Regions from separate parts of the Homo sapiens genome. Here all the other regions are linked to region 1. Evidence: fine-mapped expression QTL. A gene starts in region 1. Each other region holds a variant in brackets. All regions are shown on one strand. Distances are from middle to middle. Region 1 holds the start of GPATCH2L (G-patch domain containing 2 like). Region 2 has its middle 21 kb from the start of GPATCH2L. Region 3 has its middle 69 kb from the start of GPATCH2L. Region 4 overlaps LOC105370575 (a long non-coding RNA gene).

Region 1 (7,479 bases):
ATCACATCTGATGTAAGACTAATGGGACTCGGTACTGTTATTTTCAAAGCCCACCATGTGTTCAGACAATTTGAATGTCAGCCATAAAAAAATAAATTCAATATAATCAAACCACAAGTAGCAGAAAACAGAATTATAGCCAAAAAGCATCTAAAGCCATGATTCTTAATGAGGACAGGCAACTTAATGGAACATTTATAAACTCCGTATACCTGGCGCTAGCATATTCTCTCTCACACACACACACCAGCCTCTGCTGAGACCTGAGTTCTAAACAACAATATTTATGTATAAACTGTATGGCATAATAAGCAGCAAATTGTTTTTTAAAATAAAATTATTAGTTTTGCATTTGAGGTACGCGTTTTAAACAGTTTTTAGAAACAACTGTGTTTCTATTACATATAGCCTTCCTGACAGAGGGAAATAGACTCATGAATGGTACCTTAAAAAGCTAAACTACTGATTGATTCAAGGAAGGCTTCAAAGTCAATACTAGAGTGGCTGGTTTGAAAGAAGGTAGAACCCACTAAGACCATGGATGTGCACTTTGGGAAAAATTAACCAGGAAAATCTTTGACTTAGTAAGGGAGATCTCACCATTCTGACATGTTCTCATCAGAGCCCTGTTTTTGTTCATCTGTTTCACACTCCATCCTTTCTTTCCTTCCTGTTTTGCTTAGGAAAGTCCTATTTTCTGCTGATTCACACAATCCGTGGCCTGATGAGGTCCAGGGAGTATTCTCCTTCCAGCGGGACAGACGCTGCTTCTTAGCAGACTTGAACCTGCAGCCTCTCTCATAGCTCCAATCTGACACCTTCAGCTTCTGCTGAAGGCTAGCAGCCACCTCTGATGTCACTCGCTTCACCTTCCGCCTGCGCCTGAGTGGTCGACAAGGTGCATTTTCAGTAAAGGAGTCAGATTCATGCCAAGAATGTTGCTTACTCTTGACAATGGCATTGAGAGCTGGGTGTCGTTTGGCTACCATTGTGTCATCAGAGTCACTAAAATTGGTCACCGGAGCCACTTCTCGACAGTCCTTAGTGGCCTCATCCAGACTTGACTCAGAGGCCTCGCTGTAGCAGCAGGTATGCTCTGCCAGGTGAGTGAAGTCAGAACGACGCTTCCGACCTCGGCGTTTCCGAAGCTGCCGCCTCTGCTGTCGGGGGCTCAGCGCCATCTCCTCCCACAGTTCACCAAGCTTATTCTGCTCAGATGTCTGCTCCAAGGCTGAGGCTAAGTCGTGTACCAGCTCATCCATGAGGCCACATCTGCCAAAAGGAAGTTTAGGAAAAAAAGAAAGAAAGAAAAGAAAAAGAAAAAGAAAGCCTGAAAAAGGATCTGTTGTTTTGGAATAATTTGATGAAACAGATCATGGTAGTCCACAGTTCTGCCTGTCTAAACAAAATAAGTCACCTTTCATCTGGCTACACTTAGATTCTGTTCCTACCACTTCCTTAAGTCACTAAAAATAGATGTTTTGTCCCTTGTTAAATGCCTGAAGTCAACATATTCTTAAGCACAAAAACCTACTAACCAGAAGACAACTGGGACAGGACCCAAAACAAATTCGGGGGACTAGATCCTTCTCTCTTTTCCCCAATTAAACTTGTCATTGAATTACCTAATGATGAGATCCAGAAAGATTAGAGACTGTCTCACTAGACAGGAACAGAAAAACATACAACTTCAAAATCACACTAGAGTTGTGGAAACACAGAGTAGCACATGGTCTCATCGAGGTATTGAGAATGAATGAAAAACTGTTCTTTGGCCTGGGGTCACTGCTGACAATGACCATGGCAGAAAGAAACAGAAAGACAACTTAGTGACACCATTTAAGGAAGAATGCAGTTTTCGTGATCCAAGAAATTGTAGTGACCCAGGTTTGAAGTCAGAATGGAGAAGAGACTAAGTTTGCGCCCATTCTGGTACCAACTACCACCTGGAAGCTACCAGGTATAGAACCTTATACAGTATGTCATATATTTTTGAATAATTAACAATTTTTAAGCCCCTCTCCTACCCTCCAGAAAATAAATGTTGGTCCTAGTTATGTGCTTCAGTGCCACACAATCACAGAAAACTAGGATACAATAGCAGCTGAAATGACAGGGATAGGGTGAAGTTTCTAAGATTTCTGGCCAAACTGCTTTCCAAAATTTCTTATTTTTCTGTTCATCCTCAAACCAAACATCACACTTCAGGGGTCACTTCAGAGACAAACATTTCAAGAAATGACAGTAGTAGGAGCAATCTTCAAAATTCCCCCTTAAGGGGAAATATTTAATTTGTACAGCATCTAATTAAATACATATTAAATTTTTAGCACTTTTCTCTTGCCTCTATGCCCAAAGTATTTCAAGATCAGCTTAAAATTCTAAGTGGTGCCACTCTCTGACCATATTCCCATTCATTCAGTTTTCACTTTGCAAAGGGCTTTCTAAAACCTATTTTCATGCTGTGCCTATGCCAATGAACTTAAAGACAGGAAAACAGTCCTCTGGCTTATCTGCCACACCTGTAGGAGCAATAGTGACACCTACTTCCAAAACTACCATACAAACGAAGCTTCTCAAAGTGTCCAAAAGCACATACATTTAAACAAGACCAAGTTCTTTTAAGCATTAAGAAGTGGTTTATCAACACCTGTGAAAAGAAGGGGAAAAAATGGGAAAAAAAAAAGTGGATTAAAATGCCATGATTGAGGTTTGGGAGACAACTGTCCCTAAGACCAAAATAAAGAAACAAGTGGGAACAGCATGTCAAAATCTACTTCCCTAATAAAGAATTACTGCTTTAAAAACTCAGGCAACAAAAATACAAAAAACAAAAACAAAAGAACAAATAAAAACCTCAGGCAGAACAGCACAAACTTGAACATGGAACGAAGTCATCAAACAACTTGCAGTCGAATGCCTGTGCAGAATCCTTTCCTGCCTCAAAGCCTGTAATTCCAACAGTAGTGACAAAAGAACCCTAGAACTCCCCATCTCCAGTCGCGGATGCACACTCTCGAGAGGACCCGGCGGCCAGGCACGCACCCGGGCAGAGATGAGGCTGAGTCACGCACAGGAAGGAACGGGTAGCTGGTGGACAGCAAGTAAGAAGAGAGACAGGAGCAGGGTGGAAGTGAGGGGCGGAGTAGGAGGTGGGAGAGGCAGGAGGCAACTGCTCATTTGGGCTCACGAGGGGCGGGGATCGGCTCTTCTAGGGCAGAAACTGCCAAAATGCAAGTCTTGGCGACTGAGCTCCCTCCGGGATCGGGGGTCGCAACATGGCCACATATATGACAAAAACTGTGTTTCGAAGGACTCTCCACCACGCCCCGGCCCGTCCCTGAGGGCTGGGGCGACCATGGCTCGGGACACCAAGCCCTCAGGCTGCAGCCCGCCCCAGAGAGGCAGAAAGAAGAAAGGGGAAGAGGGGGCTGTGGCCCCGGAGACGGCCCGACCCACATCCCCAGGGATGGGGACAAGGGCCCTGAAAAGCAAGGCCCCACCACCCTCACCCTCCGGCCGTCTGCCGCAGCCCCAAGACGCCCTTAGCCGCTCAGCCGCGGCTTGGCGCTCCGATCCCCTCTGGTACTAGCCCCCAGGACCCCAACACTCTCAACCCATTCCTCCCCCTCACCAGCTGCCGCAGCCACCTCCAACGGCCGCCGCTTTTTGGGCCGACTCTCACCGCCGGGGCTTCCCTCTCTGACCTCATTTCCGGTCTGGGCCGGAGGGGTGGGGCGGTGGCGAGTGGGAGGGGCTGGCTGCACGATTGGGCCCCTGACCCAGTGCTTCCGCCCGTGGCCACACCCACTTCCGCCCCGCGGTGGGCGGAGCCACAGGAAGCCAGGAGATGGGGCAGGGGACAAGGAGGGGTGTTGAATAGGGTCTGGCCGGGAAAGGGCGTCTCAGGGGTTGAGGTGCCCCACGTGGGGAAAGACCCCTGCATGCTGGCCTCATCTTCCTTAGGGGCTTCCAGAAATTGGGCGCTAGGCAGGGATGTCAGCTTATCTCTTGCTTTCTGACCTTTTTAATGGGTCTGTGAAGTTGAGGGGAAATGGATCTTAATGACGTCTACCCTGTGAGCTGGTACAACCTTTGGAAGAGGTTGTTTTGCACTGAGTTACTCAGAACATTTCAAATTGCCTTGAGCAATAAAACAAGTGATATTGGATTATAACTCAAAGTACAAAAGAAATATTCATGAGCCCATGCCGATATAAGTGATTGAATAAATTAACGAATGAGGAAGAAGAGATAAATCCCCCACAGAAGAATCTCAAATAACTTATGTAGACAGCCATCCTGCAGCATAACTTCTGCCTCCTTAAATGTGGGCTGTGCATAGTGACTTCCTTCCCAAAAGTACAACATCTGTAAAGGGGAAAATGAGTGATTTTACAGGGGAGAAACCTGGCAAACAGTAATTCAGCCAGGTGATCAAGACTATGTGCTAAATCATGTTGATAGTATGTGGAATGATATATGATGAGAATGGCACTTTATGGTACTTTCCTTCCAAATCTCATAACCCAGTCTAATTATAAGAAAAAAAAATCAGACAAACCCGAATTGAGGGACATTCTGCAGAGTGCATGACCAGTATTCTTCAAAATTGTTAAGATCAGCAAAGGCAAGGGAAGTCTAAGAAACTCAGAGCCAAGAGGAGCCTAAGGAGGCATGACAATGTAATATGGTGTCCTGGGTGTGACGCTGCAATTGAAAAAAGAACATTAGGTAAAAACTAAGGAAATCTGGATAAAGTATCAACTTTAGTTAATCATAATGTATCGGGCCGGGTGAGGTGGCTCACGCCTGTAATCCCAGCACTTTGGGAGGCCGAGGCAGGCGGATCACCTGAGGTTGGGGGATTGAGACCATCCTGGCTAACAGGGTGAAAACCTGTCTCTGCTAAAAATACAAAAATTACATGGGCATGGTGGCACGTGCCTGTAATCCCAGCTACTCGGGAGGCTGAGGCAGGAGAATCACTTGCACCTGGGAGGCGGAGGTTGCAGTGAGCCAAGATCGCACCATTGCACTCCAGCCTGGTCTACAAGAGTGAAACTCCGTCTCAAAATAATAATAATAATAATAACGTATCAATATTGGTTGCAATTGTGAGATGTGTTATACTTCTGTAAGAGTGAATAGCCTGGTGTGGTGGCTCACACCTGTAATTCCAGCACTTTGGGAGGTTGAGGTGGGCGGATCACCTGAGGTCAGGATTTCGAGATCAGCCTGGCCAACATGGTGAAACCCCGTCTCTACTAAAAATACAAAAAATTAGCCAGGTGTGGTGGCACATGCCTGTAGTCCCAGTCCCTACTCAGGAGGCTAAGGCAAGAGCATCGCCTGAGCCCAGGAGGCGGAGGTTGCAGTGAGCAGAGATCGAGCCACTGCACTCCAGCCTGGGCGACAGAGTGAGACTCAGCCGTCACAAAAAAAAAAAAAAAAAGTGAATAATAGGAGAAAGTGTGAATTACACAGAAACTGTAACAATCTTCATAATTTTTATCTAAACCCAAAATTATCCTAAAATAAAAAAGTTTATTTAAAAATATGCACATACCTTGGACCCTGAAATTTTGCCCCAAAGAATTGTATTCTAAGGAAAAATTGGAAATGGGCGCAAAAATGTTAAATATAGGTAAATCATCTCTGCAGCATTTCTGAGGGAGAGATGAGGAAACTAGAAAAAGCCAGAAGTTCTACAACAGGGGTTAGTTAACTAAATTATGGTACATCTATGGGTGGAATATCTTGCAACTTTTAAAAATTAATGTTGCAAAAGAATATTTAATGACATGAAAAGCCATCGACTTATGATTGTGTACATTTCTGCATGACTGTTATACTTCAATAAAAAGATTACTCTAAAAATGTAGAGTATGATTCCCATACAAAGGAAATTAAATCTATACTCGCAAAGGAATATGACCAGAAGAAGCCACCATACAATATCCGAAATGGTTTCATTATCAATGATTATATCTCCTATCTATTGTTTTTTGTGGATTTTCAGAATGTTCTATAGGTGAAAAAAAGTCAAGGTAGGAGACAAAGATAGCTGAGGTTTTGAGCTAGGGCAACTAAGACAATGGTCAGTGCCATCTGCACAGCTAGAGAAGTCAAGAAGATAAACGGGTTTAGTGGAAAGATGATTAATTCCATTTTGGACATGCTGAATCTGTGACTCCCACAGGACAGAAATATGGAAATGTTCAACAGGTGTCCACAGCCTTAGGCCTCTTTTCTGCATAAGTGAAAATTCTCTCCCACAAATCACATCTGTTCCCACGGTGTTGATTGCCTGCATCAGCACTGAAAGCTCCCAAATTTCTTGAAATCCAACTTATATTTTCATTTTTCTACTAGATAGCTCCACTTGTTCACCTCACCAGCATTTCCAATTTAAAATGTCAAAAATAGGCCAGGCGTAGTGGCTCACGCCTGTAATCCCAGCACTTTGGGAGGCTGAGGCGGGTGGATCACTTCAGGTCAGGAGTTTGAGACTAGCCTGGCCAACATGGTGAAACCCCGTCCCTACTAAAAATACAAAAAATTAGGCAAGTGTGGTGGTGGGCGCCTGTAATCCTAGCTACTGGAAAGGCTGAGGCAAGAGGATCACTTCATTCCAGGAGGCAGAGGTTGTAGTGAGCTGAGAGCACACTGCTGCACTCCAGCCTGGTGACAGGAGTGAAACCGTGTCTCAAAAATAAATAAGTAAATATAATAAAATGTCAAAAATAAAGCTTAGTTTCTTCCACAGTTTCTTTCTTCCTTCCTTCCTTTCTTCCCTCTCTCCTTTCCTTTTTTTTTTTTTTTTTTTTCCCAGACAGGGTCTCTGTGAAATGAAAGACAGAGTGAGACCATGTCTCAAAAAAAAAAAAAATTGGAAATGGGCTCAAAAATGTTAGATACAGGTTAAATTCTTCTCTGCAGCATTTCTGAGGGAGGATTGAGGAAAGTAGAAAAAGTCAGAAATTCTACAACAGGGATTAGTTAACTAAATGATGGTACACCTACGGACAGAACACTGCAGTGGCATGATCATTACCTCACTGCAGCCTTGACCTCCTGTGCTCAAGTAATATTCCCACCTCAGCACCCTAAATAGCTGGGACTACAGACACATGCCACCATGCCCAGCTAATTTTTAAATTTTTAGTAGAGAGATAGGGTCTCCACTATGTTGCCCAGGCTGGTCTCAAACTCCTACCATCAAGTGATCCTCCTGCCCCAGCCTCCTAGAGTGCTGGGATTACAGGTGTGAGCCACCTTGTCCAGCCTCTTCCATAGTTTCTATCAAACCTGCCCCTTCTCCACTGTTCACTCTTTGGAAAATATCGCCACCATCATGCAGTTACCCAGGTGAGAAGCTTCAAACCCATTTTTAGTTCTTGTTTCTTTCTTTTACCCCTTTATCTAGCAAAGTGCTAAGCCCCGTAGATTGCACTCCTGCAGTAGTCTTGCATTTGT
Region 2 (7,479 bases), 21 kb after region 1:
AGATATCGCTTCATTTCGGCAAGGTAATGAAAGCCGGGTTGGGGGGAGGATAAACCAATTTGCCGGCTGACACTGGGAGAAGTGATTTGCGGACTCAAGAAGGGGAGAGGAGGGCCCATGCACAAGGAGGCACAAGGCTAAGCCATGGTGGGCCAAGGCCCTTCCACAGGCAGAGGCTGGGCAGGGGCACCCCAGTGGGGTGAGTGGAACAAAGCTAAGGGAAGAAGGGGGTAAAGTGGAAGACCCAGGTGAGTGGAAAAATGAACGGAGAACAGAGCAAAGGAAAGAAAGGTCACAGATATATGGTATCTGGGGGTAACGGATGGCTGAGGCTGGGAAAAGGGGCATTGTGGGAAAGAAAAGAAACTGAGGCAGAAGCTGAGAGTACAAGAAAAGACCAAGGCTAGTGGGGCAGAGAAAGTTGGATGGGGATTGCAGGGAGAAAGTAAGTATAGGCTGGCTGATAACAAGGTTGAAATATCTGGAGGTAAACTGTTTTTGAATGGGGAGTCTGAAGTTTGCTGAGAACATTCCAGTGGTCATACAGTTTGGCGATTATGTCCTTTATGAACAGCTCTGGCCAGTTGGCCATCAGAACCACCTCTGTTCTGGAGAACAGAAGCTGTTCTCCAGTGATGTCCTCAGGTGGCAACTTAAATTTGGGGGCTGATGGTCTGAGCTTGTGTTACTGTGGGAGTAGGAGGTGCAGTCTCTTCCTTCTGATCAGAATCGCTCACGGAAGGAGGTCCCCCAGTTATACCTTAGAAGTGGAAGGAAACCCTCTCCTGGGTCATGTGTCCAGGTGAGTCTCCCCTGCAGTTGAGTACCTCCCTCCAGCAGTCTGGCCTAATTAGTTGTCATTCTTTGTGCCAAGTCTAATTTCTTGTCCTGAGTAACAAGAAGTAAGAGCAGGACTGGTGGCTCCTGCCAGTCCTCTCATAATGTTGGTAACCATGTCTTGTGTGCAATTCAAGGTCACATCTGAACCAGGCGCCACACCCATAGAGGCAGACATAACCCCAGTGAAGTGGGTTGGGTTACGTAACTGCCCTGTTACTTTCTCCAGCACTGGCACCTTTCTTTCTTCCCTTCAGCACCAAGACTTTTGGACAGCTCCACTGAGAGCGCCAGCAAATTAAACAGGCTTTCTACCCTTATTATCACGTTTTCAAGTTCCCTAAGACCCATTCCTACCCCTTCCTCCTAAGATTAAGATGAGCAGATCCTCAGCACTCAATAAATGGAGAAGAATCTCAATCTCCTCTTCCCCACCTTCCCCTTGCCAGTGTGCTTCTCTCCTTCTTAGTCTACACCCACCCCTGCACACGTTTGTAAGCATATGCACACGCACGTGTGTGCATGCACACACTCTCTCTCTCTCATTCCCAAGTAATGCTGCCACTTTTCTCCCCTGATGTGGGTTAAGGATTTCCAATAAGAACCAAGTATTTGAAGCTTAATACTGCAGTCTCCAGAGGAGCCAGGCCAATTTCACACTAATCTAACCCATGAAGGGAGAGAGCAACGGAAGCAAAAATTACATCAAAGAGAAGTTAATGCTGAGAAGCAGGCGACATAAAAAGGAGCTACTTTCAGTTTCAAAGGACTACACCAATCTGGATTAAGAGATCAGCCTACCGAATGCCTGTATCACCATTGCTGTGTCCGGGCACCAGGCAGAATGAAACCATGTCCTCAGGGGCCACTCTGAATGGGGTCAGAGGAGAAAAATGAGGTTTCCACCCTGACTCCACATTCATTGACATAGTACATGCTCTGGGCTGGGGGCTTTTGGGAAAATAAGTTAAAGAAATATAGGAGAAAAGACTAGAAGAAAGCACATCAAAATGCTAGCTTTGTATTTAGGGGATTTTCCCCTCTTTCTATTGCTCCATATTTTCTGGAATGAAGTTTTCTTACTTTCATGGTGACAAAAGTAAAATAGATGTTCAAACAGCAATGGGACCTCAATGTGCTTTCCTCCATCTGGAATGTATATCTCTAGGCATTTTCCTTGGCACAGCACTTAGCACAGTTATGTTTATAGGTGAAAAAGCACTTTATAAATGACTGTGCAGAGGATTATGATGGTGTGGTCAGCGATGGAAAGTGATGGGGGAGCTGCAGTTTCATTCAGTAATTCTAAGACAGTGGCAGATGGCAACCTGAGAAGTTCTAAATGCTTCAATTCTCCCCCTTTTCAGGATGTGGAGGCTCAGTGCTGCTAAACCCCCAGCACTCTGCTACAGCCAAACTGAATGCCATTTGTTGAATGAGCAAAGAAATGAACGAAAGAAAAAGCGACGATCTTTTCCATTTCATCTGACCACCGACAGTATTGCTCCAAAGTAGTTTGACTCCATCCTTCCTTTTGCACAAGGCCCCACTGCTCCCTCCCAAACAGATGACCTGGAGACCAGGAAAGAATTCTTGTCAAGCTCCCAGACAAAGGTTGCTCAAACAGCCAATACCCCTTGCCCCGAGAGACCACCAATCTGTCTCCATCTGCTGACTGCTGGGCTTCTTCCAAATCCTTGAGCCTGAAGTCCACTGACCTGGGGGAATGACCCACAAGACAGAGAGAAGTGGAGGGACATCAAGAATGATGGGCCCAGCCTGTGGTGCCTCTGGGGAGGAGCTGCTTGTCATCCCATTTTAAGTGGAGCTGAAGGGAGACCGGCCTCCTGCCCACCCCTCCTCTTGCCCACCCGAGGCGGCAGCCTGACAAGTGTAAATCCCAGAATGAATGGAGGCGCCCGGCCCGTGGAGCCGGTGTCTCCGCGGGCATCTCCGCGCTGATTGACTTGTCGCCTCTGCGAGGCTGACTCTATCAGCTCCTCGGCTCCTCCAATTCCAGGTGTGATTTAGTTTGGAGATGAGAGGTGACAGTTAACATTGGTACTCGTCACTGTAGATCAGACCGCAGTCACGCTGTCTTCCCCCTCCCCAGCCCGCCCCCTCCCTCCTCCGAGGCGCCAGGGTCAGCGCTCCCGCCCAGCCCACCGACGGGCAAGCGAGGCTCCCTTCCACAGTCTGCATTCCCCAGGGCTTCCTCAATGCCAACACCTTCCTCCGGCCTGACCGTCACTGTTTCCCAAAAGCCCAGGCATCCTTGGCTTCCCTGGAATCCCCGGATGGTTTTTCTTTCTGTCTTCTCTCTCCTGGTTAGCCTAGCCTCTGAGCAACCTCAGTCTCCGCTGGCTCCCTGCACAGGATCCCCTGCAGGGGCCAGAGGGATGTTCACTGGGCAACGTGTCCTCACCAAATGCAGAGTTTGGAAGAGATGCGAGTGGATGAGAGCCAGGGTGAGCTGGATCCAGCACTGCTCTGTACATTGTAGAATAAACTTGTGCAACCACCACTCAGATCAAGATATAGAGCAGTTCCAACACCCCAGAAGTGTCCAGTGTCCAAGGGAGGCTTTTGGGGGTCAAAAACTTGTCAAAGGAAGACTTGGGTGAGATACGAGCAAAACTTCTCAGGCCATGAAGGACCCAGAAGGTGGGTGGGAAAGGGGGAGAGTTCCCTGGATAAAGAGCTACTCTTTTCTAGGCTTCTGGAAAGTGAACTGTTGAGTGAGAGGAGGGATTTTAGCTGTGGCACTGTCAGAGGGTTCTCTAGAGATGCTTCAGGGGTCACTGATGAGGGTCTCTAGGCGGTGGAGTGGGCAGCCTCAGTGGTTCCACCTATGTCTGTGTCATTCACTGGGCTTCTCTGCAGGATTTCATTTGAAAGAAAAGTTCTGTGGTGGAAATACTCTCTGCTCTCCTTGTTGTGCCACATGGCCTCTGTTGCACTAACATATATAGATTCTATGACCACTGTCTCTCCCTGCAGACCCTTCTTCACTCCTTCCCACTTTCACTGAGCCTCACACTGTGCTGGGAATAAAGCTGTCACCTTCTCAACAGAGCACATTCTCTACTGCCAGCCCACACACACTCCAATTCTGACTCCAGGCTTATCTGCCTTGGAGCTGCTGAGAGGAACCCAGATTCCTGCCTTTGGGTTCCCTATCTCCTTGAGAAACTGCTGGAGGGAGGGGCTGCAGGAGTTTTCCTGGGCACAGGTAGAAAAACAGAGAAGGGAGGGAACCTTGGTTAGGTTCATTCTCTTTGTTACAGTTTGAATGTGTCTCCTCCAAAATTCAGGTGTTGCCAATGTGACAGCAGTAGCTAGTGCGGCCTTTAGGGAGTGATTAGGGCAGGAGGGCTCCTGCCTTGTCAATGGGATTAGCCGCCTTTATAAAGAGGCTTGGTGAAGGGAGTTGGTTTCTCTCTTGCCCCACCCACCTGCCTTCTACCTTGTGAGGGCACAGCATGAAGGCCCTCACCAGACAGATGCTGATGCCTTGATCTGGGCCTTATCCTCCGGCACTGTGAGAAATAAATGTCTGGTGTTTAAGGCACCCAGGCCATGGCATGTTGTTATGGCAGCCCAAATGGGCTAAGACATCAGGCTTGTCTAATTTTGAGGTCTACACTATAGAAAACCACATTCCCCGATTGATTTTTTCCCGTTTTAATATTAAAATTTAATTATAAAAGTAATAGTAAAATAAATTATCATTTAAAAAATAAAACATAAATGATAATGTTTGACCAACCTTGAGTCTTGGTCTCTTCCTGTTCTCCCAGAGGTTATCACTGTGAGCAAGTTGGTGCGTAACCTTCCAATGATTTTTCTATGTCCTTACATACATATGTGCATACCCTGTAGAAAAAGACATATTATTATGCTGCAGTGATATTTTGTTCTTACATAAATGGCTTTCTATGTGTTGTTTGACTTTCTTTTTTTTTTT[TC/C]TTTTTGAGACGGAGTCTCACTCTGTTGCCCAGGCTGGAGTGCAGTGGCACGATCTCAGCTCACTGCAACGTCTGCCTCCTGGGTTCAAGCAATTCTCCTGCCTCAGCTTCCCCAGTAGCTGGGATTACAGGTGTGCGCCACCATGACTGGCTAATTTTTGTATTTTCAGTAGAGACAGGGTTTCGCCATGTTGGCCAGGCTGGTCTCAAACTCCTTACCTCAAGTGATCTGCCCTCCTTGGCCTCCCAAAGTGCTGGGATTACAGGCGTGAGCCACCACGCCCAGCCTGCAACTGACTTTCTTTGCTCAGAATTCTGTTTACCACTGCATGGTTTTCGCTCTATTTGGGGCTAAGCCATCCCTATTAATGGACTTAGGCTGTTCCCGGTTTATTGCTATCACAGTGCAGTGGCAACTATGATAGCAATAAACATATCTGTGTTGTCTTGTGTGCTTGTGCACGTGGTTCTCTAGGACAGACACCCATAAGTGACATTGTTGGATCACAGGAATACATGGTTTTAACTTTAATTGTCCTTCCAAACAATCCCTTCAGAGAGGATTTACAGTTTACAGTACCACCAGCAACGTATGAAAGTATTACTTCCTCACACTCTTGACAATACTTGATGATACCATACTTTTAAAATTTTACTTACTTGATGGGTGGAAAATGCTGCCTACTTTAACTTTTCTGTTTTTTCTTTTTTTTTCCTTGAGACAGAGTCTCACTCTGTTGCCCAGGCTGGAGTGCAGTGGTACGATCTCGGCTCACTGCAAGCTCCACCTCCTGGGTTCACGCCATTCTCCTGCCTCAGCCTCCCAAGTAGCTAGGACTACAGGTGTCTGCCACCACACCGGGCTATTTTTTTTTTTTTTTTTTTTTTGTATTTTTGGTAGAGACAGGGTTTCACCGTGTTAGCCAGGATGGTCTCGATCTCCTGACCTTGTGATCCGCCAGCCTCAGCCTCCCAAAGTGCTGGGATGACAGGCATGAGCCACCGTGCCCGGCCAACTTTTCTGTTTTTAATTCTCCTGTGATTACTTATGCAAAGGGGTCCCTAGTATAATTCCCGTGGAAGAAAAGTGGAGAGATAGAGCAACCCCTGGTGTTTATTCAGGCAAACTGGGTAAAATTATAACAGCTGACATTTACTGAGCACAGCCCTGTGTAGATTGTTTAGCACATGTCTGGGAGGCAGGTGTACTTGGGTTTGAATCTTGGTCTTGCCACTTTCTAACTGTGTGACACTGCATGAGTCATTAACCTTTATGAGTCCTGGGTCCCCCTCTATTAAATGGGGATGATAATAGTAGCCACCTCATAGGATTATTGGAAGAATTAAAAGAGTTAGTATTTTATATGGTTTGGCTATGTCCCCACCCAAATCTCATCTTGCATTGTAGATCACATGTTGTGGGAGGGACGTGGTGGGAGGTAATTGATTCATGGAGGCATGTCTTTCCCATGCTGTTCTCATGATAGTGAGTAAGTCTCACAAGATCTGATGGTTTTATAAAGGGGAGCTCCCCTGCACACGCTCTCTTGCCTGCCACCATGTAGGATGCGACTTTGCTCCTCATTCACCTTCCACCATGATTGTGAGGCCTCCCCAGCCATGTGGAACTGTGACTCAATTAAACCTCTTTCCTTTATAAATTACTCAGTCTCAGGTATGACTCTATTAGCAGTGTGAGCACAGACTAATACAGTATTTTTAAAGTTTTTAAGTGCCCATCGTAGTGCATATTTGTATTTGTAGGTAATTACAAATATATGTCAGCATCTGTGTTCTTTATGTATATTGATTCATTTGAGTCCCCCATCAGTTTTGATGCAATAAATACTCTTGTTAATCCCACTTTATGGAAAAAGAAACTGGGGCAAAAAAAAAGTTTGAAAAACTAGTCCAAGGTCACACAACCATACGGGCAGACCTAGGATTTGAACTCAGGTCATTCAGCACCATTTAATCACTGCACTATGCGTTGTTAAAGGGGAAAAGAGGGAGCCAGATTTCATATTTTGTGGTAAATGTGAAAAGTGGGATAAACCTCTTAGCTGTCTCAGAAAAGCACTAGGAAGAGGCCATCATAACCCCAGCCTTGTACAGCATGTGCCAGGCTTTGAGACATACTTCCCTCCATCCTTGCTAGTCTTGGAGTCCGGAGTCCAAAAGCCTTGTGTCTGCACCCCAGCTCCACCACTTCATTGCTCTGTAAACTCAGGCAAGCCTCCCACCCAGGAGAGCCTTCCTGTCTTCCTTGGTTAAAATGCAGGCAGGGTCTCCTTGAGGATTAAAAGCAACAATGCCTGCAAAAGCCCTGCATAGAACAGGGGCCCCCACAACCCTTACTGTAGTTCTTGCCTTGGACTCCTGCCATTTTCAGATTTTACCTCTTCCCAATTCTCTCTTTTCAAAGCTCATATGGTCATGAGGAAGAACTAGGAACAGTGGTGCCCCAAGGGTGGGACAGTGAGTGCAGTCTGCCCCAGGAACTGGCAATAAGGGGATCCATTGCCTTAAGGACCTTAAAAAAATTATAATACCAACTGAAAGTCAGTCTTCTTTTTATTATTACCATTTGCTAGTAATTCTAAACCATGACAGTGATAAAATTCTCCTCCCTGAAAAAATATTTTGTTACTCTAAGTTCTAAATGCCTGCAGTC
Region 3 (7,479 bases), 69 kb before region 1:
CTTACGATGCTAATGTAGTGAAATACACTAATATTTAAATGGAAACATAATTCGTATATCTTGAAAGTCATCATTTTAAAGAGTACAATTCAGTGGTTTTTAGTATATTCACAAAGTTGTGCAATGATTACCATATAACTCCGGAACATTTTCATCACTGCAGAAAGAAACCTCATACCTACTAGCAGTCCTTCCCCATTCCCCTTTTCCCATTGGCAGCTACTAATCTACTGCCTGTCTGCAATATCTGTCTCTATGGATTTGCCTATTCTGAACATTTCATGTAAGTGGAATATGGCCTTTTCTGTCTGGTGTTTTTCAATTAGCATAATATTCTCAAAGTTAATCCATGTTGCCACATGAATCAGTACTTCAGTCTTTTCATGGCAGAATGATGTTTTATTGTACAGATATACCACATTTTGTTTACCATTCATCAGTTGATAGGTACTTGGGTGGTTTTCACTTTTAGTTTATTGTAAATAAGGCTAAAATGAACATTTGTGTACAAGCTTTTGGGGGTACATAAGTTTTTAACTGTCTAGGAATGGGTGTAAAGTGGCATCTTGTAGTTTCAGTGTTTCTTCAGTGACTAATGATGTTGAGCATCTTTTCGTGTGCTTGTTGGCCATGCCTACATCTTCTCTGGAGAAATGCTTACTCGAGTCTTTTTGCCCATTTTTAAATTGGATTGTTTACCTTTTGGTTGTTGAGTCATAAGAGTTCTTTATATATTCTGGATATCAGACCCTTATCCAATATATGATTTGCAAATATTTTCTCCCATTCTGTGGTCGTCGTTTCATCTTCTTGACAGTGTCTTTTTGAAGCAAAAAATTTTAAATTTTGATAAAGGCTTATTTATCTATTTTTTCTTCAGTTGCTTGTGCATGTGGTGTCATATCTAATAAACCATTACCTCATCCAAGGTCATGAAGATTTATGCATTTGTTTTCTTCTAAATGTTTTCTAGTTTTAGCCCTTATGTGTAGGTCTTTGATATGTTTTTAGTTAATTTTGCATATTGTATAAAGAGGGATCCAACTTCATTATTTCGCATGTGGATATCCAGTTGTCCCAGATAGTTTGTTGAAAATAAATCCAGTTGAATGGGTTGAAAACACTGATTTTGTGATGTTAAGCCAAAATCTTGCATTCCTAAAATAAATAATTCACTGAACTTTACTTTCTAATATTTTCTTTAAGATATTTATAAGTATGTTCATTAGATATAGTGGCCTATAATTTTCCTTTCTTGTAATGAACCTGCCACCCTTTGGTATTAAAATTATGGTAGCCTCAAAGTGAATTGGGAATTATTTTTCTTTTTGTATTATTTCAAACAGTTTGTATAAGACTAGTGTCAATTCTTTAAATGTTTAAAAGAATTTGCTGGTGAAGAAAAAAATCTGGACTGGGGATTTTTTTGTGGGAAAGTTATAGTTACAGATTCAACTTTTTTTTCTTTCTTTTTTTTTTTTTTTTTGAACACAGTCTCACTCTGTTGCCCAGGCTGGAGTGCAGTGGTGCGATCTCGGCTCACTGCAATCTTCACCTCCTAGGTTCAAGCGATTCTCATGCCTCAGCCTCCTGAGTAGCTAGGATTACAGGAGCATGCCACCACGACCAGCTAATTTTTGTATTTTAGTAGAGATGGGGTCTCACCATGTTGGCCAGGCTGGTCTTGAGCTCCTGACCTTAAGTGATCCACCTGCCTCAGTCTCCCAAAGTGCTGGGATTACAGGCGTGGGCCACTGTGCCCAGCCCAGATTCAACTTCTTAAACAGATATAAACAATTCAAATTTTCTATTTATTCTTTTGGGTTTGTTGTTGTTACAGGGTCTCACTCCGGTTGTCCAGGCTGGAGTGCAGTGGCAGCATCTCAGCTCATTGCAGCCTTGACCTCCCTGGCTCAGGTGATTCCCCCACCTCAGCCTCCTGAGTAGCTGGGATTACAGGTGCACGCCACCACGCTCAGCTAATTATTTGTATTTTTAGTAGAGACGGGGTTTTACATGTTGGCCAGGCTGGTCTTGAACTCCTGGACTTAAATGATCCATCCACCCTGGCCTCCCAAAGAACTAGGATTACAGGCACGAGCCACCATGCCCAGCCTTCTATTTACTCTTGAGCTGGTAAATTGTATTTTCCTAGAAATTCCATTTCATGAGGATTTTCTGATTTGCTGACAGAAAGTTCTTCATATTACATTCTTAGAATATGAAGGTTTGGGGTTTTAAAAAATCCCAGGCTTTTTCTGGGGTTTTATATTGGTAATCTGTGCCTTTTTTCTATTTTTAAAATAGAGTTTAGAGTAGTTTTGGATTCACAGCTAAATTGAGCAGGAGTACAGAGAATTCCCATATACCTTCTTCCCCCACACATGCACAGCCTTCCTCACCAGAGTGATACATTTGTTACAATCAACACATTATCATAAAACAGTTACACATCTTTATCATCCAAAGTCCATAGTTGATACACTAATGTTCACTATTAGTGTTATACATTCTATGGGTTTTGATAAATGTATAATGGCATTTATCCATTATTGTAGTATCATACAGAGTATTTTCACTGCCCTAAAAATCTTCTGTGCTCTGCCTATTCACCTCTCCTTCCCATCTAACCCTTGGCAACAATTCATCTTTTTACTGTCCCCATAATTTTGCCTGTTCATATAGATGATATCATACTGTAGGTAGCCTTTTCAGATTGGCTTCTTTCACTTAGCAATATGCATTTAAATTTCCTCTATTTCTTTTCATGGCTGGATAGATCATTTCTTTTTAGAGTTAAATAATATTCCATTGCCTGCATGTACCAGATTGTTTATCCATTTACCTGCT[G/TCTG]AAAGACATCTTGGGCAATTACAAATAAATCTGCTATAAACATCTGTGTGCAGTCTTTCTGTGGACATAGTTTTCAGCTCATTTGGATAAATACCAGGAAGCATCATTGCTAGATTGTATGGTAAGAGCATGCTTAGTTTTGCAAGAAACTGCCAAACCGTCTTTCATCATAGCTGTGCCATTTTTCATGCCCATTAGCTAATTCCCATTAGCGTTCCTGTTGCTCCACATGCTCACCAGCATTTGGTGTTGTCAGTGTTTTGGAAAATCACCATTGTAATAGGTATGTCATGGCATCTCATTATTATTTTATTCTGATGAGCATCTTTTCATATGCTTATTTTCCATCTGTATATCTTCTTTGGTGAGGTGTCTGTTCAGATCTTTTGTCCACTTTTTAATTTAGGGCTTTTTTTTTTTTCTTATTGCTGAGTTTTAAGAGTTCTTTTTACAGTTTGGATAACAGTCCTTTATCAGATGTGTCTTTTGCAAACATTTTATCCCAGCCTGGGGCTTATGTTCTCATTTTTTTGACTTTTTTTTTTTTAAATCAGTCTTGCTAGAGGTTTATCAATATTATTAGTCTTTTCAGAGAACCAATCTCTGGGTTTGTTGCTATCCTTTTTCTACTTTTTGAGATGCGTACTTAGACTGACTTTTAGCCTTTTTTATGCAAGTTTTGATGTCATTTAAAAATTGCCATATAGTTCCAAATATTGTCTAACATCTACTGCAATTTATTTTTGAACTATCAATAATTTAGAATTGTAATGTTTAATTTCTAAATATTTCAGGCTCTGCTGGGGTTTTTAAAAAATTGATTTTTAGAGTAATTTCACTTTGGTCAGAGAACATATTTTAGGTGATTTACCCTTTGGAATTTGTTGGGACTTACTTTAAAGACCAGCATATGATAAATTCTGGTAAAAATTCAATGGGTGCTTGGAAAGAATACCTCTTCTGACACTGCTGGTTATAGTATTCTATGGACATTAATTAGGTTAAATTTATTATTCATTTTATTGTAATCATCCATATTATTAATCACTACTTGTACTATCAGGTACTTCTAGGTCTGTAATTTTGTTTTCTATATTTTGAAGCTATATTATTAGTTGCATTAAAATACAAACTCTATCTTTCTGGTAGATTTATCTTTTTATCTCTATGAAATGTTCCTTTGTGTCCTTAGTAATGCTTCTTGACTTACATTTATCTCAACTGATATTTGTATAGCTATATCAGCCTTTTCTTGGTTGGTGTGTTTTTTATCATCCTTTTACTTTCAATTTTTCTCTTAACACTCAAAGTATGCCTCTTGAAAGCCAGATATAGTTAGGTTTTTAAAATATTTACCCATGTGTTAGGCAGCCTCTTTAAGATGACCTCAAATGACCAACCTCCTGGTATTAAAGCCTTGTGTAATTGCCTTCCTTGTGTGAGGACTGAAGCTGACTAACCTCTGGTGAATTCTAATGGTTAGTCCTGCTCATGCAAAAGTTGTCAGATTCAAAATGGAGTCACTTGTGTCAAACCCTGACAACGTGGAGCCAGGGAAGGCTATGAAAGGAGGGATTTCATGCACGATTTGCCTGATAACAGAAACGAATCAAAGCTTACCAACTTAAGTCACACAAGGACAGCAGGGCAGCTAATCACTTTTCTAAGAACACTTGCCTGACACATTGACTCATATGCAAGGCCAATCAAACAAAACATAATTTTAAGATCACAAATTTCACCCAATAACTGCCACCACTCACAAATCAGCACTTGCCAGCTCCCAAAAGACACTATCCCCTCCAATGACTTTCTTTCAGAACGACTTGTATAACCTCCTCTTTCCCCAGTAAAACCCTAACCTTTTCCTTTTCTCTGGACATACTGGAGGACACCTGGGTCTGTCTGTATGTATGACCTGGATTGCAATCCCACATCTTGTGTATTACTCCCCAATAAAACCTTTTTACTTAGAGATTCATCTTTCTATACATTTTTATGTTGACATACGTTATTTCACATGTATAGATACAATTGTATCTGTAGGACAAATTCCTAGGATTGCTGGGTTTAAAAATGTAATGAACCTTTGTAATTTTAATAAGATACTGCCAACTCTTTATACTTGGCACTAGTTTATACAATGTATGAGAGCATCTATTTAACTACACATTTGCCATTATAGCGTGTTAACAAACTTTATTATTTTTGGTAGGTGAAAAACTTCTATTATTAAGCATTTTCGTATGCTTCAAAGTCATTTGTATTTTCTCTTCTATTACATGTCTCTGTTAATCTCCTTTGCCCATTTTTATACTGGATTGCTAATGTGTTTTCCTTTTTATTGATAGGGACTCTTTCTATTTTAGATAACTTAGGCCCTCATCTTGGCAGAGTTACACATTTCTTGCCCAAGTTCTCATTTGCATTTGCTTATGGTGCTACTGCCATGATGAAATGTTTTCTCTCTGTGAAGTCTAATCCAGCAATCTTTTCTTTTATGGCTTCTGGGTTTTGTGTCATACTTAGAAAGGCCTTCCCCAGTCTTAGGTTATAAAATAACTTTCCTTTTTTTTTTTTTTTTTGTACTTTTAGAAAAATTATTATTTTTTACGTTTAAATCTTTAGACTGTCTGTAATTTGTCCTGGTATAAGAGGTGAAGTATAGATCCAACTTAACTTTTTTCACCAGAGCCCTACCTAGGAGTTCCCACCCCATTTGCTGACTAATCTTTTTTCCACTGATTGAAAAGCCATCTTTATCATATTCTCAATTCTCGTAAGTATTTAGATCTATTTTTGAACTGTTCTGTTCCACTCATCTGTATGACTACTCACAAATTATTACTACTCTGTTTTAATTGCTGTAGATGTATAAATTTTAATATCTAGTAGTCTCCCTCTATCTTTTTTTAATATGAACTTTAGAATTAATTTATATAATTTTTTTCAATTCTATTGGTATTTTTATTGAAGATCACATTACATTTGTAAATCGAGAGAAGTGATATCTTTATGATGCTGCGTATTTCTATGAGAGAACGTGGTGTATCTTCCCGTTTGTTTGGGTCTTGTTTCATCTCTCATTAGCATTTTAACATTTTCTACAAATAATATTTCTTGTGTTTATTCCTATGTTATCATTTATGTTTTGTGCTATTACAACATGGGTCTTTTCTTCCCTTAGAGCTTGAAATTAGACATTGTATCTATAAAAGCTATTGATTTCTGAAAATTAATTTATTAAATTCTTATTTTGTAAGGTCTGGTTAGTCTTCTTTAGTTTCTAAGTAAAAAACTCAGTATCATCTTAAAATTATAATTTTCTCTTCTCTTCTAATTTCTGTATCTTTAATTTCTTTCACTTAATTGTTTCGCCTAAGTCTTACAGAACATTTTTAAATAATAGTGATAATTAGTGGACATCTTTTTCTTGTTCCTGACTTCAATGAAATTGCTTCTGGTATTCTCAATTAAGCATGACGCAGGCTTTGGATGAGATAAATATATTTTATCACATTAAGGAAACACCCAGCTATTCCTAATATTAAATGATCCTTGCATTCCTGAAATAAGCCTCATTTAGCCATGGTAAATTAGTCTTTCATCTAGAGCCAGTCTGACTGGGTTCAAATCCTGGCACCATTACTTCTTAGCTTTTTGTGTTCAAGCATAATACTTCACATCTTTATGACTCAGTTTCTTTGTCTCTTAAATGGGGATGATGAGAATATCTACTCATTAGGTTGCTGTGAAAATCAATCGACTATATGGAAAGTTGAGCATCTTTTCACGTTTGAGAGACATTTGCATTTTTTCTGTCAACTGTCTGCTCATATCTCTTCTACAGTGGTCTACAGGAGATTCTCTATTTTTATGTTTATAAATTAGGAGTATTAGCCTTTAATCTGTGATGTAAGTTGCAACCATGTTTCTGGGTTATCACTTGTATTTTAGTTTGCTTACTGTGTATATGCATGCAAGGTTTTTTTTTCAACAGTCAAATATATCTCCTCTTATTGCATCTAAATTTTTAGTAGTATTTAGTGTGGAAGAGTACATTATTGGTCCCAAAACTTTCCATTGTCTATATCCCCATCCTTTGCCATGTGGATTTACATTCCCTTCTACCAAAGGAGTGGGGTATATTTTTGTACTGGTCCAAGGAGATGAAGGACACTTAGAGCAGAGGTGCCCCAGCTGAGTTCAGTCGCATTATTATGCAATAGCTAACCCAGGTTACAAAGCATGGGTCCACAGTCTTTTTTAAATAAAAGTTTGGATAGCAAATATTTTAGAGTTTACGACCACATAAAGTCTCTGTTCCATGGTCTCCTCTTTTGTTATTGAACACTTTAAAGGTGGCAGAAAAAACAAAACAAAACACCGTTCTTAGCTTGCAGCAGTCCAAAACTAGGCCTTGGGCCAGTCAGATTTGGCCTACAGGCTATGTGGCTTGCTGACCCCTGTCACAGAGGAATTCATCTTTTTTTTTCCAGTAGTTGTATAGTTTAAATTGTACAATTAAATCTCTCATCAATTTGAAAATTATCCTGGCATAGTGTGAGAAACAGATCCACTTTTTCCTGTATAGCTATATATTTATATGTAGCTATATAACTATATCCA
Region 4 (7,479 bases), 86 kb before region 1:
AGTATTCCCTTTTTGCCACATCCATGCCAACATCTATTGTTTTTTGACTTTTTAATTATGGCCATTCTTGTAGGAGTAAGGTGGTATCTCATTGTGGTTTTAATTCGCATCTGCCTAATGAAGAGTGATGTTGAGCATTTTTTCATACAGTTGTTGGCTGTTTATATATCTTCTTTTGAGAAATGTATTCATGTCCTTTGCCCACTTTTTGATGGGATGATTTGGGGGGTTTTTTGGTGATTTGAGTTCCTTGTAGATTCCAGATACTAGTCCTTTGTTGGATCCATAGTTTGTGAATATTTTCTCCCACTCTGTGGGTTGTTCATTTACACTGCTAATTATTTCTTTTGCTGTGCATAAGCTTTTTAGTTTAGTTAGGTCCATTTATTTATTTTTATTTTTGTTGCACTTGCTTTTGGGGGGTTAGCCATGAATTTTTTGCCTAAACCAATGTCCAAAAGAGTTTTTCTGATGTTATTATCTAGAATTTTTATTGTCTCAGATCTTAGATTTAAGTCTTTGATCCATGCTGAGTTGATTTTTCTATAAGGTGAGAGATGGGGATCCAGTTTCATTCTTCTACATGTGGCTTTCCAGTTTTCCCAGCACCATTTATTGAATAGGGTGTCCTTTCCCCAATTTATGTTTTTGTATGCTTTGTCAAAGATCCGTTGGATATAAGTATTTGGCTTTATTTCTCGGCTCTCTATTCTGTTCCATTGGTCTATATGCCTATTTTTATACCAGTATCATGCTGTTTTGGTAACTATAGCCTTGTAGTGTAATTTGAGATCAGGTAGTATGTTGCCTCCAGATTTGTTCTTTTTGCTTAGTATTACTTTGGCTATGCAGGATCATTTTTGTTCCATATGAATTTTAGAATTGTTTTATCTAGTTCTGTGAAGAATGATATTATTTTGATGAGAACTGTATCGAATCCATAGATTGCTTTGGGCAGTGTAGTCATTTTCACAATATTGATTCTTCTCATCCATGAGCATGGGAAGTGTTTCCATTTGTTTATATCATCTATGATTTCAGTGTGTCATAGTTTTCCTTGTAGAGATCTTTCACTTCCTTGGTTAAGTATATTCCTAAGTCAGGGGCTGGGCACGGTGGCTCACGCCTATAATCCCAACACTTTGGGAGGCTGAGGCAGGCAGATCACTTGAGGTCAGGAGTTTGAGACCAGCCTGGGCAACATGGTGAAACCTGGTCTCTACTAAAAATACAAAAATTAGCCAGGTGTGGTGGCGCATGCCTGTAGTTCAGCTACTCAGGAGGCTGAGGCATGAAAATCACTTGAATCCAGGAGGTGGAGGTTGCAGTGAGCCGAGATTGTGCCACTGCACTCCAGCAGTGTCTCAACAGAGTCTCGTTCTCTCACTCAGGCTGGAGTGCAGTGGCACAATATATATTAAAAATTAAAAAAATATATATATATTCCTAAGTATTTTAATTTTTTGCAGCTGTCATAAAAGAGATTGAGTTCTTAATTTGATTCTCAGCTTGGTCATTGTTGGTGTATAGCAGTGCTACTGATTTGTGTACATTGATTTTGTATCCTGAGACTTCACTGAATTCATTTATCAGATCTAAGAGCTTTTTGGATGAGTCTTTAGGGTTTTCTAGGTATATGATCACATCATTGGCTGACAGCAACAATTTGACTTCCTGTTTTCCAATTTGGATGCCCTTTATTTCTTTCTCTTGTCTGATTGCTCTGGCTAGGACTTCCAGCACTATGTTGAATAGAAGTGGTGAAAGCGGGCATCCTTGTCTTGTTCCAGTTCTCAGAAGGAATGCTTTCAACTGTATATGTGAACATATTTTAAAACCACAACAAGTGGATACTGATGTTCTGCTGTCAGCTTACCTGGCACATGTAAAGCCACAGAAGACATACCAGCAAAGGTGGCAAAGCACTTCTGGGAATGCCTGGTATTATGCAGCTATGAAATCTTGTTCCCTGTCCTCCCTAAACCCTTTTGGGTTGGTGATGTAGCCACACTCTGGCCAAAATGGATGCTCACTAGCAAGAACTTTTAGTTTCAGGTGAAAGAGTTGGGAAAGGAGCTTTCACCCAGCAAATCAGATCTTCAGCCAGCCTGTACTGACATACCTGTATTTGTCACACAGGATAATGTTTATCTCTCTAATTTTCAGAACATTATCAGGCATCTGAGAAGTACCACCTGGTTGATTGTAACACATAGTACTTTGCCCAAATGAAAATCGTGGAAAAATTCAACACTGGTCAGTATAGAATGCGCATGCTCGTAAAGTCTAAATATTTGCTTCCTCATGACTCCCACGTGAGTTGCTTAGGTAGATTTCTGGCTTGGGTTCAGAATGAAACTAAAAGTACAAAGAGCATCTTTGTCTGGCTCAGGATGTTCTCATTTTTTAATGAGATGGGAGCTCCCAAATGGACCACAACTGGTTGTCCAACCTAGGATGGTTTAAGGGAAAGGAAAGGAAGTTTCTTTAGAACAGTGGTTCTCCATGATACCAAGACTGACAGCAACAGCGACACTGAGACCAACAGCAGCACACCACCTAGAACCCTGTTAGAAATGCAAATTCTCAGTCCCACCTGGACCTATGAAATCAGCAGCTCTAGGGTGAGGCCCAGCAATCTGTGTTTTAACAAACTTTTAAGGAGATTCTAAAACATGCTTGAGTTTGAGAAACACTGCTTTAAAAAAAAGTCCTACCCGCAGCTTATTGCATGTAATTTAATCATAACTCAGTAAAGTAGCTCGGCTGGATACTTTCACTTATTCTTGTTCATGCATAAACACACCAGCACAGAAATCGCACAGACAGATCCAGACACAGGACACACATAGCACAATGAATGGCATAGACAACTGTTCATAGAGTAAGTACCAGAGCCCAAACTCCCTGACCCCTGAAAGTGGAAAATGTGTAGTGTCCTTTCAAGAAGGGTAAGGATTGGGCACAATGGCTCATGCCTGTAATCCCAGCCCTTTGGGAGGCCAACGCAGGCAGATCCGTTGAGCCCATGAGTTCGAGACCAGCCTGGGCAACATGGTGAAACCCCAACTTTACAAAAAATACAAAAATTAGCCAGGCATGCACCTACAGTCCCAGCTACTTGGGAGGCTGAGAAGGGAGGATCACTTGAACCTGGGAGGTAGAGGTTGCAGTGAACACCACTGCATTCCAGCCTGGGTGACACAGCGAGTCCCTGTCTCAAACAAAAGAAAGAAGGGTGAGGAAGAGAATGGGAAAGGGGAGAGACAGAGCAGAGAAATAGGAGAGGGAGGAGGAAGAAAAAGGACAAAATACAGCGTGTTTTCAAACATGATTTCATAAGACACAAAGTCTTTCTAAAGACAATCAGAATTCAAATGCCAGTGATCTTCACAGGAATCTTAATAAGAAAGTTAAAAATTTTTAATAATTGTATGGCTCATAAAACTCATCATGATTGAGGGTGTTGCTCACATCCTTAAAAGAATAAGCATCCCACCAGAGATGCATCTGGCACTTCAGAACTTTCTCCCAAACAACTCGTTTGCTTTTATCTCATGGACACTGTGAAGGGAATTGTTGATTATGTTTCCTTCTTTCAAGAAAA[C/T]GCAGAATCAAATTAGCAAGTGAATATCAATCAGCCTTTTGTATGAGAGCCTCACGTGGCTTTGCCTCACATTTCCTGCCTTTATTTCCCCTGCCTGGGTGTCCTCCTTTGCTGCACATTTGTGCTTTTGTCAGACATTTCAAATCCTTTTAGGAATGAGGCTGGCAATAAGGAAATACGGAGAAAGGCTCTTTCCCCAAGCAAACTGGAAACCTGGGAGGAAGGGCAGTCAAGGCATGACAGCCATGGGTCCAGTCGGGTGGAGAAGCCCAAGGGGGCTCACTGATGCTGTAGGCAGTGCCTGCGGGGCAGCTTCTTTGCCTCTGGTGGAGGGTGAGTGAACAAGCCTGAAGGCAGGAGCAGAAAGGGGAAGGACAACTATTAGTGACTGAAAAGCTCTTTGCTCAAGTTGTTTCCTGGGGTTAGGAAAAGGCAGTAGGGAGAAGGAATCTGTGTTTTCTTGTTTTTTTTTGTTGTTGCTGTTTTTGTTTTTGTTTTTTTTGTTTGTTTTTTCCGAGACGGAGTTTCGATCTGTTGCCCAGGCTGGAGTGCAGCGGTGCAATCTCAGCTCACTGCAATCTCCACCTCTCGGGTTCAAGAGATTCCCCTGCTTCAGCCTCCTGAGTAACTGGGATTACAGGTGCCCACTACCACACCCGGCTAATTTTTGTATTTTTAGTAAAGACAGGATTTCACCACATTGGCCAGGCTGGCCTCAAACTCCTGACCTCAGGTGATCCACCCACCTTGGCCTCCCAAAGTGCTAGGATTACAGACGTGAGCCACAGCGCCCAGTAGAATCTGTGTCTTATAAGATGGGCTGATCTCTGTCTTCCTTAGCATTCTCGCTTTGAGACTAATCAGTATCCACACAGGATTGGCCAGCCTGATGCAGGCACCACGGATCCAAGCATTCCTCCCTGTTGGTGTAATGCACCAGGCACAGATCCAGACCACCCTGGTTCCACTCTGCTCAGAGTTCCCAGAGAGATGGGCCAGTGGCATCAGCACAGATGATTAGAGCACCTGTTCAGGTCTGGTGCAAAACCTGAGAAAATACTTGTTTTGATATCCTATCTGGTTTGGAATGGGTAGAAGGGTATTTTCCTTGGATAGCTATGTTGGAGGGACTTATTCCAGCTCTAAGGTGGTCTGATTGGACGGAACCTGGGAATCAACCACAAGCAGGGGTGTTTGGAGCTGCCCTTTCCACCAGCCAGCAGTGCCTCCCAGAAAAACTTCCATAAGCCGCTCCATCAGGACTGCAGTGCCAACCTTGACCAGTCACTTCTGAGTCCAGTTACATCCATAATGACATTTCTCCACTGCCCCCTTCACCCCCAGAGCATGACAGATGAGGGGCTTCACGGAACGAGTCCCCGAGCTGTGATGGGAATCTGTCTCGCTCCACTACAGAAAAAAATATATATCCCTGAACAGCTGTGAGGAATTCTTTCATTAGTCATCTGCATCTTACCGCTAGTCTTCGCTTCCTCTTTTTACAATAAAAACTGAAAACAGATTAAATGTCATATTCTGACAATGATTGTTTTCAAACACCCAGGCTAGGAAAGGGGAGGTGACAGAGAGAACATTAGAGAGAGAACAGAGGGTTTGTGAAGCCATGGGCCATGGAGACAAAAAGGGAGAACTGTCCCTGCACGGTGGGAGGGCACCAGGGAGTGTCCCAGGGTGGACAGATCTGCACAGTGACCACACAGGCTCAGCTCAAGACTGAATGCTTATGTTCTAAAGCTTTTTGTTGGGAGCAATTTACAACCATTGAGAAATCAGACTGGAGAAGCTATGTGGAGAGGAGAAAGTAAATTACACCATAAACAGAAATACTCACAGGTCAAAGAAAGTGCAGATAGACACCGAAAGATCATATGCTCAGCGTTGTCCACATTGGAGAAGAAACTGCAGGGTCTTTTGAGAAGGTATACACCCTTTGGCAGGTCTCACATGAAGATGCTTGCCTCTCCAGAAAGTCACCCTAAGGCCAGTGTGGGCAGGCTGCAAGGAGATCATGGGGGAAGGTGAGAGGGGGTAAAGCAACTGTCAGAGAATGCCACAATCAGCCTGGCTGGAGGAAGGGCCTGACCAACTCAATTAGTGCTGATGTGGGTCACAAAACCACCTCAGAAACAATGGATAGTGAAGTTCAACCATCTGGTCAATGGCTGGAGGACTCATTCAGCTAAAAGCACAGTGTCTGATCAGGTCTTAACTAGCCTTCATATTTAGTCATTGTATTAGTCCATTTTTACACTGCTAATAAAAACATACCCAAGACTGGGTAATGTGTAAAGAAAAAGAGTTTTAATGGATTCATAGTTCCACATGGCTGGGGAAGCCTCACAATCATGGCAGAAGGCAAAGGAGAAGCAAAGGCGTGTCTTGCATGGCAGCAGGCAAGAGAGCTTGTCCAGGTGAACTCCCATTTATAAAACCATAAGATCTCATGAGACTTATTCGAGTTAAGCCTACCACAAGAACAGTATGGGGAAAACTGTCCCATGATTCAATTATCTCCACCTTGCCCCACCCTTAACATGTGGAAAGTATTACAATTCAAGGTGAGATTTGGGTGGGGACACAGCCAAACCATATCAGTCATTCAATTCAATATAGTTTGGTGAATGTCTACTGTATTCATTTTCTTTTTTTCTTTTTTTTTTTTTTTTGAGACAGAGTTTCGCTCTTGTTGCCCAGTCTGGAGTGCAACGGCGTGATCTCAGCTCACCGCAACCTCCGCCTCCTGGGTTCAAGCAATTCTCCTGCCTCAGCCTCCCAAGTAGCTGGGATTACAGGCATGCACCACCACACCCTGCTAATTTTGTATTTTTAGTAGAGACAGGGTTTCTCCATGTTGGCCAGGCTGGTCTCAAACTCCTGACCTCAGGTGATCTGCTGGCCTCGGCCTCCCAAAGTGCTGGGATTACAGGCGTGAGCCACCACTCCTGGCCTACTGTATTCATTTTCTATGCTGCTTAACTACCACAAACTTAGCAGTTCTAAATAACACACACTCTTTATCTACAGTTTCTGCAGGTCAGAAGTTTACACACAGGTTGGCTGGTTTCTCTGTTGAAGGGTTTCACCAGCTGCTATCCAGGTGACAGCTCGGGCTGCAGTCTCATCAGAGGCTCAACTGAGGAAAGATCTGCTCCAAGCTTCTTCAGGTTGTTGGCAGAATTTATTTCCTTGTGGCTGTCAGACTGAGGGTTTCAGTTTCTTGCTGGAGTCTACCCTCAGCTCTTAGAGACTGCTGACAGTTCCTTGCCACTTGGGCTTCTCCAATATGGCCATTTATTTCATGGAAGCTTGTTCCTTCAAAGCCAGTAACAGGGAGAGGGACAGAGAGAGAGTGATAACAAGACAGACTCTTCTATAACATAACCATGGGCATAACATCTCATCACCTTTGCCACATCCTATTGGCTAGAGGCAAGCCACAGCCAAGGGGATGGGATTACACAAAGCTGTAGACCCCAAGAGGTAGGAATCATGGGACACCTTAAAGTCTGTCTGCCACACCTGCTGTTTTAGGCAACAGAGATACAACAGTGAACAATAAGCCATGTCTTAGAGGAAAGCAGCTGGAGAGAAAGAGACAGAGAGAGAGGGAATCCATAGATTAAAGAATTAAAGGACATATATTACATTAAAAGACATATCTATGAATCTCCATGAATCTCAATATCTGGTCCTCATTTGGATCCTAATTTATTTTTTATTTTTTAGAGACAGGTTCTTGCTCTGTTGCCCAGGTTGGAGTGCAGTGGCACAATCAGAGCTCATTGCAGGCTCAAACTCCTGGGCTCAAGTGATCCTCCTGCCTCAGCCTCCTAGGTATCTAGGACTGCAGG

What was found. PIP is the estimated chance that this variant, and not a neighbour inherited with it, causes the effect. A credible set is the group of variants that fine-mapping cannot tell apart.
Region 2: its variant is the best candidate, but not a certain one, in a credible set for the expression of GPATCH2L in whole blood (INTERVAL, PIP 0.60).
Region 3: its variant is the best candidate, but not a certain one, in a credible set for the expression of GPATCH2L in transverse colon (GTEx, PIP 0.88).
Region 4: its variant is the best candidate, but not a certain one, in a credible set for the expression of GPATCH2L in skeletal muscle (FUSION, PIP 0.84).

What each region holds. Positions count from the first base shown.
Region 1 is chr14:76,148,147-76,155,625 of GRCh38, reverse strand. It overlaps GPATCH2L (G-patch domain containing 2 like), which reads right to left and starts at 3,704. Exons shown (of 10, transcript NM_017926.4): 1 at 3,635-3,704; 2 at 601-1,272. The coding sequence starts at 1,262.
Region 2 is chr14:76,126,843-76,134,321 of GRCh38, reverse strand. No RefSeq gene overlaps it. Among named protein-coding and RNA genes, the nearest start is that of GPATCH2L, 21 kb to the left of the region's middle. RefSeq lists an enhancer at 2,221-2,720. The variant TC/C (reference allele first, on the strand shown) is at 4,805.
Region 3 is chr14:76,216,962-76,224,440 of GRCh38, reverse strand. It overlaps a transcript of GPATCH2L not described here. Among named protein-coding and RNA genes, the nearest start is that of GPATCH2L, 69 kb to the right of the region's middle. The variant G/TCTG (reference allele first, on the strand shown) is at 2,851.
Region 4 is chr14:76,233,984-76,241,462 of GRCh38, reverse strand. The region is part of intron 2 of LOC105370575 (a long non-coding RNA gene); the gene reads left to right. It also overlaps a transcript of GPATCH2L not described here. Among named protein-coding and RNA genes, the nearest start is that of GPATCH2L, 86 kb to the right of the region's middle. The variant C/T (reference allele first, on the strand shown) is at 3,608.